Linked DNA regions of Homo sapiens. The protein of the gene in region 1 purifies or fractionates together with the protein of each later gene. This does not show direct contact. Each region holds a gene or a part of one and is shown in the gene's direction. Other genes may lie near its edges.

The links.
Region 2: the proteins of GSTA2 (region 1) and ATG4C purify together in Homo sapiens (affinity purification with mass spectrometry; 2 studies listed by BioGRID and IntAct, with this or other methods). This does not show direct contact.

What each region holds. Positions count from the first base shown.
Region 1 is NC_000006.12:52,749,387-52,753,569, reverse strand, and holds the end of GSTA2 (glutathione S-transferase A2), read left to right. Parts: intron 1-574; coding exon 575-716; intron 717-1,861; coding exon 1,862-1,993; intron 1,994-2,870; coding exon 2,871-2,993; 3' UTR 2,994-3,483; downstream 3,484-4,183. UniProt on the Homo sapiens protein: Catalyzes the conjugation of glutathione to a large variety of electrophilic compounds.
Region 2 is NC_000001.11:62,779,066-62,787,292, forward strand, and holds the start of ATG4C (cysteine protease ATG4C), read left to right. Parts: upstream 1-5,066; 5' UTR 5,067-5,208; intron 5,209-8,227. UniProt on the Homo sapiens protein: Cysteine protease that plays a key role in autophagy by mediating both proteolytic activation and delipidation of ATG8 family proteins.

The sequences.
Region 1 (4,183 bases):
AGCACATGGAGAGGGCTGTGGAAACGTTTTTCATGGGTGTAATTGGAAGAACTGCAAATATGGGGCATAGAAGCAGCCCTGGGAGCTGTAAAATGATGAGAGAGGACAAGGAATATGGCTGAGATGGCTGTGCCAGGGACTCTCTTAGGATTACTTAGGAAGCAGGTCTTTGGCCATTTGACTCACACTAAGTTCATGCACAGAACAAACCACAATGGAGATGATAAATCCTGGCACAGCATCAGTGGGTACTGGCAGTGATTCCACCAATTTCTCTCATGACTGTGACCACCGATGATCTTCTTCCTGTATTAGGTCATGCGTGTAACAAAATTTAGAGAGCTATCTACCTTGATAGGCTGTTTTAAGAAATAAATGTTAATATACCTGTAAAACTCAGAGCATAATGACTATATACCTGTAAAACTCAGAGCATAATGACTAGACTATAAAAGGCACTCATTGGAGGTGAATTATTTTGCCATCACCTGATACTCTACTCTCTTAGGTTTTTATAAACCTATAAAATCTAAGGCAAAAGATATTTGACCATTTGGTTGTTTTTGTCTTTCAGGATTGATATGTATATAGAAGGTATAGCAGATTTGGGTGAAATGATCCTTCTTCTGCCCTTTAGTCAACCTGAGGAACAAGATGCCAAGCTTGCCTTGATCCAAGAGAAAACAAAAAATCGCTACTTCCCTGCCTTTGAAAAAGTAAGTGAAGCTGTTCAGTGTTTTGGGGAACTGAGTTTAGAAGCCAGTAGAAAAATAGTGGCTGGGCATTCCTGGGGCACTGATCTTCACTTTCAGTGATACTTCCTGGACACCAATGCAGCACTCTGACTCTCAAGGCATTTTATGAAAATAGACTTGGAGAAACAATTGTATCACTTATACCCAAGCTATAATCTTCCAGTAAAATTTTAATTTACTGAACCCCAATATGGAATTATCTGTTCAACAGAATTTTGTGTTCATAAGTAGAATGTGGGCTGTGGAAGGCTCTGGACCACACTAGAGTTGCTGTTCAGTCTATGGAACCCCATGGACTTTGAACAGGGGCATGATGAAAGTGATCCATCAGAAAACATTCTGGCACCATATGCAGGAAGACAGGAGACCAATTGCCCAACCAGAGAATATTGCAGTGTTTCAGGGATCAGTATTTTTTAAAAGGAGAGTGACTGTGGGATGCAGAGGAAGATTCTGTAAAATGCATTTTATAGTAAGTTGCAGACATCAGAGCAGTTCACTCCTAAACGCTTCAGCTTGCAGATTATAACATAGTGCCATTTAGGAACCAGAGTCGATGCTGTAAAAAAGATGATGAATTCAGGTTCACCCAGGTTTCCTACAGATCTCAGGGAGATAGAGCAGGGAATGAGGAGAACAGACAAGGAGAAATGAGGACTCTGAAATAGTCTCCTTCTGGGGGAAGAGTGTTGTCACGATGGTGGAGTCACTGCCCAAGGGAGATTGGAGCGGGAGACAGCAGAATGTAGAGCCACATCCTGAATGTGAGGGCTCCACACTGCAGGGCCTGGGGCAGACAGAACATGCGGCGGCAGGTGCTAAGCCCTTGGCCCATGTGGAAGAAGCAAGCTGGGTGGGTAGTGTAGACGCCACAGTGATGTGGATGAGAAGAGAAAATGGGAGGCTGAGCTCCAACTGAGGAGTGAGTACAGTTACACTTCTTACTATCTCATTCATTCAGATAATGTGGAGAAAGCTCGGGATTTCTGCATCCATGCAGTAAGGCAACAGAGGTGGGGAAAGTCAGGGTGGAGAGGCTCTGAAAGAAGCAGGGGTCCCAGCCTGGGTGGGCATGTGTTCCTGATCTGATTCCTCCCATTCTCCAGGTCTTAAAGAGCCACGGACAAGACTACCTTGTTGGCAACAAGCTGAGCCGGGCTGACATTCACCTGGTGGAACTTCTCTACTACGTGGAAGAGCTTGACTCTAGCCTTATTTCCAGCTTCCCTCTGCTGAAGGTGACCCATTTCACAGTCTTCAGAGAGGCAGACCCACATCTCCCATCTTGGGATCTTGTATCTGGGCCCTGGGACTGAGCATGTTTTGACCCCAGCCTTCTCCAGGCCTTTGGTGCCCCAAGGTCTCCAAAATGAGCTTCCAGGCTCCAATTTTGAGGAATGAAAACACTTTTGTTATGGAAAGGAAATTTGTAGTGCATGCTACCCCGCAAAGAGTATTTTGCCTTTTATTATGGAAAGGACCCAGGGCCCAGCATGTCTCCCCATCCCTCTATTTCAGTGTGGTTTCTGTTCCTGAGTTCTCTGTGATGTCCTTTATCCCATATGTGCCCACATTGAGTCAGTCTGAGCAGAGCCCTTTCCATCTGGTTTCCTCCCTGGGCTCCGGCTCCTGCTGTCAGACATTTTGTTCCTCTCTGCCCAGCTCTCCAGCACTCTGCCCCCGACAATGTATCTCTCACTGAGAAAAGGTGGTCCCATGGTTTGTCTTTACTATTTTCTATAACATTTTCCTTTCCAACTCATTTTCCCATATTTTCACTTCTGCTTAGAGACTGATCTGTGCTGATATCAAACAAGCACATTAGTTTTTCTTGTCTTATACAAGAGTCACTAATCTATAGGATTAATATGTAAGAAGAAAGATAGGGATGACTGAACTGATTAAAATTTCAAGACATCTTTGGGGAAAATAAAGTGAGCTACATGTTCTTCCTCTTATCTTCCTTTCTCACTGGGTGTCTGTTTCTGCCTTCACCCAAGTGGAAGCGACTCACTTGGTCTTTGGCAGGAGGGACTCAGATTCCCTGGGTCATGTTAATGGGGGTGTCAGCCCTTGACTTGTTGTTTTAGTGAGGCTGTGCTTTGTGGATTACAGGCCCTGAAAACCAGAATCAGTAACCTGCCCACAGTGAAGAAGTTTCTACAGCCTGGCAGCCCAAGGAAGCCTCCCATGGATGAGAAATCTTTAGAAGAATCAAGGAAGATTTTCAGGTTTTAATAAACCAGCCATAGAGGTCAAGAACATGCAAGACCAGTATTCTAAAGTTTTGCAACAATTAAGTGCTTTACCTAAGTGTTGATTGTGCCTGTTGTGAAGCTAATGAACTCTTTCAAATTATATGCTAATTAAATAATACAACTCCTATTCACCCACTTAGTTAAAATTGATTTCTTCTCATTAGGATCTGATGTGAATTCAGTTTTCCAATCTCCTCCTAGCCAACAATTTTCTTGGAATTACAAATTCAGTAAAAATGGAAACTATAAATTATGTGGTTTGTTTGACTTTTCCAAGAATTGCCCTGTAACATACAATTTGTCATACAATCTATTAAAATGCCAATGTAAAAATGCACCTCTGACATTTTCAGGTATGCACAGGAGAAGAGTTACCATCCTGGATAATGGCATAAAGACATTTTCTTCTTTTCCTGAACAGTCATTTTATTTCTGATAAAAGCATTCTTTCTAATGCATTTGCAAAACAACGATTCTGTCTGCTGTGGATTCCTCCGTTTTCTAGGAGGTGAGGAAATATTGAAGAGCAAACAGACCCACCCTCTGCTCTCAGGCCACCTTGTTGTCTCTTACAGTGCATGTGGTCCTGGCTTATCCTCACTCTGCTCCTTAAGCCTCCATGGGGTCCCAGGCATAAGCCTTCTCTCAGTTCCCTCAGTGCCACTCAGACCTGGGCTGCCAAGATACAGATGGTATATGTGAATTACATACAAATAACTATATGCAAAATCATTTTTCCCTGGTGTGTCACTGTGCCAGAGTGCTTAGATTAGGAGTGCTTTCTAGCTCCACCCCCATACTGGTCCTGTAATGCTAATCTCTCCCAGGACACCTGGGCTTCTGCAATTTGAGCTCTCCTCCTCTTAGAGGGAGCTTCCCCAAGTTGGCAGAGGTGGTTGAGGGAGCAGACAGACACACAGGCTTCCTACCTGCAGCTTCACTTTGCTCTAGTCTCTTCTCCACTTACAACCAGAGTAGTTTTTCTAAAATGCAAATTGGAAAAAAAAAATCACAGAATTCTTCAGGGAATCCTGACTGCATATAAAATCCATCCTCACACCTGTCCTCACTCCTTGATCTTCAGCCCAGTCAACTCTCTGAACATGGTGAGGCCTCTTGCCTTCCTGCCTGGGTGCATTTGCTACCCCTACCTGGCAAGCTCCTTCCCAG
Region 2 (8,227 bases), on another chromosome or scaffold:
GTTCAAGCAATTCTCCTGCCTCAGCCTCCTGAGTAGCTGGGATTACCAAGCGCCCACCAGCACACCTGGCTAATTTTTGTATTTTTAGCAGAGATGGGGTTTCACCATGTTGGCCAGGCTGGTCTCGAACTCCTGACCTCAGGTGATCCACCCACCTTGGCCTCCCAAAGTGCTGGGATTACGGGCGTGAGCCACCACGCCTGGTCTACAAAGTCTTTTTGTGAAATAGCTCCAGTTTGTCTTTCCAGCCTTATATCATACTATTCACCCCACTCTCTTGTTCCAGCTATAATGAATTTACAGGTTGTCTTAAACTGGCTGAACCTCCCTCTTCTACAGCTAGTTAATTCTTATTTTTGTCATTTAAATCATCTTGGGAACTTCCTCCTCTAGGGTCCTCACTCAATTTGAGAGTAACTGACCTTCTTCATTCTCTTAAAGTCTTGTCCTTACTTTTAGCATAACATTTATCACATTGTATTGAGGGACCATAAGCTCCTTACTGAATTCTGTCTATATTTCCAGCATAGGTGTGGGTGTTCAGTAAATACTAGCTGCTGTGAAGAGATCCCATGCTGCATGTCAAGGCTAAGGTTTACTTTGTAGCACTTGATGAAGTGTGGTTATGAAAGGAAAAAGAGAAGATAGAATAGACCAGACCGAGTGCAGTGGCTCACGCCTGTAATCCCAGCACTTTGGGAGGCTGAGGTGGGAGGATCTCTTGAGCCCAGCAGTTTGAGACCAGCCTGGCCAATGTGGGGAAACCCCATCTCTACAAAAAAATTCAAAAAGTTAGCCGGATTTGGTGGCATGTACCTGTAGTCCCAGCTACTCAGGAGGCTGAGGTGGGAGAATCACCTGAGCCTGGAAAGTCGAGGCTGCAGTGAGCTGTGATCGTACCACTGCACTCTAGCCTGGGCATTGGGAGTGACTGCATTTAGCAGGAAAGCTGAGTCCACTGAAGGTGCTTTCACAATTATGGTGATTCTGTGCACATTTGTTTGTTGAAGTAAAGGGAGCATAGTTGAGAGAGAGAGAAAGAGGTTGAAGATATAAGAGAGGGGATAGAAATAAGATTACTTGGAAAAGAGGAAAGGTTTTCACCAAGTTTTCTTTTTTCTAATTTTTTTTGTTTGAGATGGAGTCTCACTCTGTCACCCAGGCTGGAGTGCAGTGGCGCGATCTCGGCTCACTGCAAGCTCCGCCTCCCGGGTTCTTTAAAATAATTTTTTAGCCTTTAGAAGTCTACAAGGTATTCATTCCATCCAGGCTGAGTTCAATGTCGCTTAACATAACATTCCCAATGAATCATTCATGGTATACATTTATTTAATAGAATCTTCATCTTTTCCTGGTCCAGGAAGGAGATGGATAAGAAATACACTTGATAGAAGTTAAGAAGTAAAAGTGTCCTAACAAAAATCTGGAGCTGCCTCACAATCAATGCTATTAGAATGGTTGGTATACTTTCAAAGTATATGCCTGGAATACGATGACATTTTAGAAAGGGCTTGACTCTTAAGATAAATGTTACCTATATATTATAAATGTGTTTTTTATATATAAGTACACACACACACACACGTATACACAAGTACGCACACACATATACTAAGCAGTGTGTGTGTGTGTGTGTGTATGTAAATTGTTGCTTTCATGATTATTGAATGTGACATTCTGATTATTCTGGTTTTAATAGTTATTTTATTATACAACCTGAATTACTAATTAAAAAAATAAAGCACAAGAGTTAGAAACAGCTTACATTAAAACTACGCAGTATTCATGAAAAGGCAGTTTCGGGGCCTCGGTCATCACTGTGAATTTTTTTTTTTTTTGAGACAGAGTCATGCTCTGTCGCCCAGGCTGGAGTGCAGTGGTGTAATCTTGGATCACTGCAACCTCTGCCTCCCGGGTTCAAGCAATTCCCCTGCCTCAGTCTCCCGAGTAGCTGGGACTACAGGCGCACGCCACCACGCCTGGCTAATTTTTCTTGTATTTTTAGTAGAGACGGAGTTTCACCATGTTGTCCAGGCTGGTCTTGAACTCCTGATCTCAAGTGATCCACCCGCCTTGGACTCCCAAAGTACTGAGGTTACAGGCATGAGCTACTGCACCCAGCCTAGTCATCACTGTGAACTTCCACAAACACTCATTGAGAGCCAGTTACTCTGCACAAAGTACTGTGCATAGAGCTGGGAGGGGCACAGATGTTTAAGATGCGGATCCTGCCTTTAAGAAGGTATATTAGCTATTATAAGTTTCAATTAACCAAATGTGTGATGATTATTAAAAGTCAGTGTTACACATATTTACTTTGTTTTCTATTCTGATAAAGCTCATGTATGCTTTTAATTTCCCTTTAAATCTTAACTAATTTCCAAAACTATCAGTGTTTCATAAACAGCTTATAGTGCCCAGACAGAGAGCCTTGCCCTTAGTAGCACTCATCCTATTTTTGTTGAACTAAAACGAACAGCTTCTTCAGTTTTAACTCTTGCATGGTTGGCAATTGGCTGAATTGGAATGTGAAGACACATTTAGAGGAGAGAATGTTCTGTCTGAGTGCTGCAGCTGTAAGAATCTCTTCAAAAAACATAAAGTCTATTACATAAATTATGTACTCTTTAAACTCCCATGTTCATTTACACAATTGATCATGGAAACGACTTTAGAAATATGTGTATCAAATATTTAGCATATTTTTAAAGCTTCCTTAATAACATCACTAATAAGTGGATGCAATTTTGTGTTTATTTACGGCAAACACCTATGAATATCAGATAACCTAATTATAGTTTATCAACATTACCTTTGAATCATTCCAATGGAAATGTCCTCTCTCACTGCATTCATATTGTTTTGGTGCATGAGCATGGAAAACAGCAGATTATTTTCCATGATCATAGATTTTAAATATTTACTTGCTAGCGCTGCATAATTTAACGCACTAGAGTTGGAAAGCAGTTTGTATGACAGCTGATGCCATGTCAGTGTTGCAGAATATAGTTTCCTCCTGTGATTTCTGTGTGAAGTTGTAAAAAGGAAAGGTACTCTACTCCTTTTTTTCTAACCAATTAAAATTTGTTGTGGCAAATCTACAGAAAACCCAAGTCTGTAGTATACACACAATTTACTTTTGTATATATAGTTATTTTAAGAATCCAAGCATTGTTTCTCATGGCCTGTTAATGCACAATACCAAAAATAAAATACATGCATTCTTGTAATCCAGGTCTTTATGAAAGTTACAAAAAGGCATCTAAACAGCTTGTTAGATGCATGCTCTCTCTCCTAAAAAAAATCAAAACAGAGTTTGGGGATTTCGAAACAGGAAACCACAAGCTATGGAATCATGCAAGAAAACTACTTTGCTCACTCTAATAAGTGTGCCATTTGTGATCTTATCATATCCTTTGTTTGTTGTTTTGTTATTTAGCTGTCCAAGTACATGAATAAAAAATAAATAGATCCAGCTACCTGTTTCTGTGAGAATAAAAAAAAATTTAAACCACCAAATCCACTAAAAAATTGAAAAAATTTCAAGTTTAATTTTGAACTTTTCAACTCTTCATTCTTGAAGGTTTTCATTCCCATGTGGTTTCATAGTCCGGTGGCATAGACTTCATATTTTATTTTTAGTTTTTAGTATAATTTCCTATGTAATTCAGAAGCATGTCTGGTAGTCCTTGCTCCAACAAAATCTGCGGTACTGTAAAACGGCATAGGATTACATTTTACAGTAACAGTATTTCTCTTGACATCATTTAGGAGTGAAGATAAAAATTTCCACTTATTTATTTATTTATTTATTTATTTTTACTTTTTTGAGACAGGGTCTTGCTCTGTCGCCCAGGCTGGAGTGCAGAGGCACAATCTTGGCTCACTGAAAACTCCGCCTCCCGAGTTCAAGCGATTCTCCCGCCTCAGCCTCCTGAGTAGTTGGGACTACAGGCGCGCGCCACCGCACCCGGCTAATTTTTTATATTTTTAGTAGAGACGGGATTTCACCATGTTGGCCAGGCTGGTCTGGAACTCCTGGGCTCAAGTGATCCGCCCGCCTCGGCCTCCCAAAATGCTGGGATTACAGGCGTCAGCCGCCGCGCCTGGCCAAAAATTTCCACGTTATAAAAAGCATCTTCGGACCGTCCTTTTTTCTTTCTTTCTTTTTCTTTTCCTTCTTTTTTTTTTTTTTTTCCCCACAAAGCCTCGCTCTGTCGCCCAGGCTGGAGTGCAGTGGCGCGATCTCTGCTCACTGCAACCTTTGCCTCCCGGGTTCAAGCAATTCTCCTGCCTCAGGCTCCCGAGTAGCTGGAATTACAGGCGCCCGCCGCCACGCCCGGCTAATTTTTTAATTTTTTAACAGAGACGGGCTTTCACCATGTTGGCCAGGTTGGTCTCGAACTCCCAACCTCAAGCGATCCACCCGCCTCGGCCTCCCAAAGTGCTGGGATTACAGACGCGAACCACCGCGCCCGACTGTCCTGTGTTTTAATGCTTGAAAATAATCTGAATATGGAAAATGAGTGCACATATCCCTTGATGTTTTATAAATAACCTACAGTCCTAATAATGGCTTGGCTTAGAGTTCCTTCACAACAGGAAAAGAAGGCATCCTGGCTTTTTTTTTTTTTTTTTTTTTAAATCAAAGTGAGGCTTGGGTTGGCTCTATCTTGGTCCTGAGTGCGAGGAAGGAGGGCCGCAATGCATGCTGGATCTTGCAGTTCCTACGCCAGAGGCAAGGGCGTGATGCTGCATGGCCTGCTGGTAGTTGAAGTCCAAGTGCTCGAGAGGAATTTATGGCAGCCGTAATGTGGTTTGTCTATCAGAGAGACAATGCTCACAGACGGATACTTTCTCTTGGTTCTGCGCTTGCTGCATTGGTGGATTAGCGGCTTGGGGTGGCGAACAGGTGGGAAAAAGGGATGGATAAAGTAAGCATAGCAGAGGCCTTTACGCCGCTGCTATCGCTACTGCCAATCGCAAGGCTTTCGTATCCCGGAAGTGGCTGATCTGTTGGATTTGACGCGGAGGCGGTTCCTCTTACTACGGTGGCCGGGGTGCTCAAAGTACCTGTAGCTGCGGCGCTGAGGTCGGAACGTCTGCGTGTGTGCGGGCTGGTTTTGTGGCGGCTGCTGCTAGAGCTGGAGCATTTGCCGGGTTGGTGGCTCCTGCACATTTTTACAGTTCTCCAGTCCTTCTCTTTCGGTGAGGGATCGGCTTGAGGCTAAAGGAGTCAAGAAGTTTGGGACTTAGCGTCTCTGGTCCCCGAATGACTGGGTTTCTTGCGGGGGTCCGCCTTCAGTGAAGACCCTGTGGCCAACCATCTGGGTTCTCTGAGGGTTTTGGCGCCTTCCTTGTCTCTCCTTTCTAGTGTCATTTGTCTTCTAACTCTTCCTCGCTTTGTCCTGGGTTGCAGAGATAAACCGTAAGCCTAACTGTGGGCAGCTGTTCCTCCTTTCCTTGTGGTTTTCTTAGATGTTGCAGGCAAGACTCTTTCCCCTGATCTATCGCATCCATTTGACCCCTCCTCATGCCAGTGCTCTGTCGGCCCTGTTTTTCCTCGTTTAAAAAATAAAAAAAGGGAAATAATAATAATAACTGGATCCCCACTGTCTCTCTGTTCTCATTCCTAGCCTCTTTCTCCCTTTTTGGTGTTTGTTACTGCTTCAAGCCATAACACACTGCCTTGCATATATTAATGCCTTTCCATCTAAATATTAACGTTCATTCACTTCATTTGGTTCCCGCTCACCGTGAACTCTCCCAACCCTACCCACATCTAAGGGCTTTTGAGGTTGGAGGTGTAGAATAAATTCTTACATATGATGACTATATTCATATATGAGAACCTTCAGCGGTCAACTCAGCATCACTGCTTATTGAGTTTATATTTCTTGTGATTTCTTTGGCTTACCTTTTCGTTTTGTATTGGTTATTTACCCACATGGGGCTCACTGCTACCCTATAGTTACAGAAGAATACCTCGTCTTACATCTTTTTATATCCGAATTACTTAGGAGTTTTCTTATGTTTTCCTGCTCGGACCATATGTCCCCGGTGGGTTTTTGGCAATGATTTTGTGTCAGTTGATGGCAGAAAGAGACAAGGGAATGATCTTCTTGCTTGCTTGTGACTTGTAATTAGATTATGAGCCATTGAGAATACCCAGAGGGAGTGGAAAGGCTTTGAAAGGTAAAGTCTATGTATTTTCTGAGTTTCAAATTGATAAAGCTTCTTCTTTGAACAGGAAGAGTTTCTATTTAGTCCAATAATCTGAGGCTATATTGAATTACCAGTTCATTCGCTATAAAATTTTTAGAACCACATGTCAAAAAGTGGCCCATCTAAAGAATTGTATAATTTAGCAAAAAGTCATTAAAAGCCATTTAATTAATGCTCTTTTTCTTTAAAATAGGATTCAAGTATTTGGAAAAATGTATTTATGGTGATTGGTTATGAAGTATTTCTAGATGTTTTGATGGTTCTGGTGAACAGCATCGTATTCTGTTCACTAATGTTTTATAAAAAGGCAGAAATTTTCTGGCTTTCTGGGGAACCACGTAACTCAAATGAGTTTGCAGCTCGTTTTCTATTCCAATTATTGCACTAAAGAGGTTCTTATACTAAGATTATCATTCTTTTTTAAGCTATCAAGTATGATCTATACATGTCAGTAAAATATAAATATTAATACTGGTACAATGTTAAATTGGGATTATTCCTAATTAATGCACAAAATGCTGAAATGGTTTCAGCCATGCTTAAGATTTGGGGCGAAATATATTTCAGAATAAATTTACTCATATAATTTTTTATTGAAAAAAATGATACGGTAGCCATTACTCAATCTTTTAATATTTTTCCTGAGATTTTATTCATTTAGTAGGAATTTAGTGACTACTTACTATTTAACTATTGTCACAAAATCACCAAAACATTTGTTTGTAAGAGTATCCTCTTGTCCTCAGCTCTGCATAGATACTTTTAAAGCATTAGCGCAGTTATTCCAACTAAGCTATTGAGTATTATTTACATTTAACAGATGAAAAAACTGAAGCTTGAAGAATTTAAGGAAATTAATTCAGTTCTTTTCGACTCTTCCCACTGTACAACAGCTGCAAGGATCTGTGCTCTATCCTGAAATATATAAAGAGCGTTAAATCAACATATGCTTACTGAGCAGCTATTCATACCAGACACTCTTCAAGGTGCTGGGGATATAGAGTGAACAAGAAAAGTCCCTGCTCTTAGGGAGCTTATACTCTAGCAGAATGTATGAGATGTAAACTTTCCCTTCAAGAAGCAGAAAATATAGTCAATATGTATTAGATTTTACGGGAGTGTTTTAGAATGTTAAAGGTGAGAAGAGAGATAACTAGGGAATGTTTCATGAAGATGAGATCTAATGTGGAATTTAAATAGTGGTTAGGGATTGGTAGGTAGAAATTAGGACCCTGTCTCAAAAAAAAAAAAAACAAGTGAAAATCTGTGATATAGAATAATTGGTGAGCCTTATAAAGCACTTTATTTTTATTTTTTGGACTATATATAAGTAAAATTGTAATATTTGACATGCATTCAATCATTTAGCATTTATTTATTAACTAGACACTCTTCTAGGCCACAGTGGTATAGTAGTGAGTAAATACGGTGTTTACCCTCATAGAATTTACTAACAGAGGAGGCAGACATAAATCAAATAGTCAAAGAAATTTAAAGTTACAACTGTGGTAAATGCTATTAAAAAAGGACTTGATGTTACACAGAGGAAGAACTGATTACAGAGGGGATAAGAGTGGGGATGGGGAGAGGCCAGTTAGAAGATTGTTGGAGTGGCCCAATTGAGAGATGGTATTTTGGACAAGGTGGTGGTGGTAAGATGGATTCCAGAGGTGTTCAGGAGGTGGAACTAGGCGATGGATTAGATATGGAAGGTGAGGGAGAGGAAGATATCATGGGCTAATCTTAGGTTTTTGGCTTATATAACTGGAAGGATTGTTGCACCCTTCACCGAGGTAGAGAACATCGAAAGAGGACCAGGTTTGGGAAACATGCTTTGTTTATTAGTATTTTTTGTTGTGGTAGCAGTGTTTAAGGTTAATTTCTTAGTTATTTTTACCCTTTTGTGTCATTGTTGTAGTTTTGTATATTTGAGTAATACTATGCCTAAAATAGGTTTTTTTGGTATCATTTTTTCTTGATTGAGCAGGGGTGGGGTTCTACA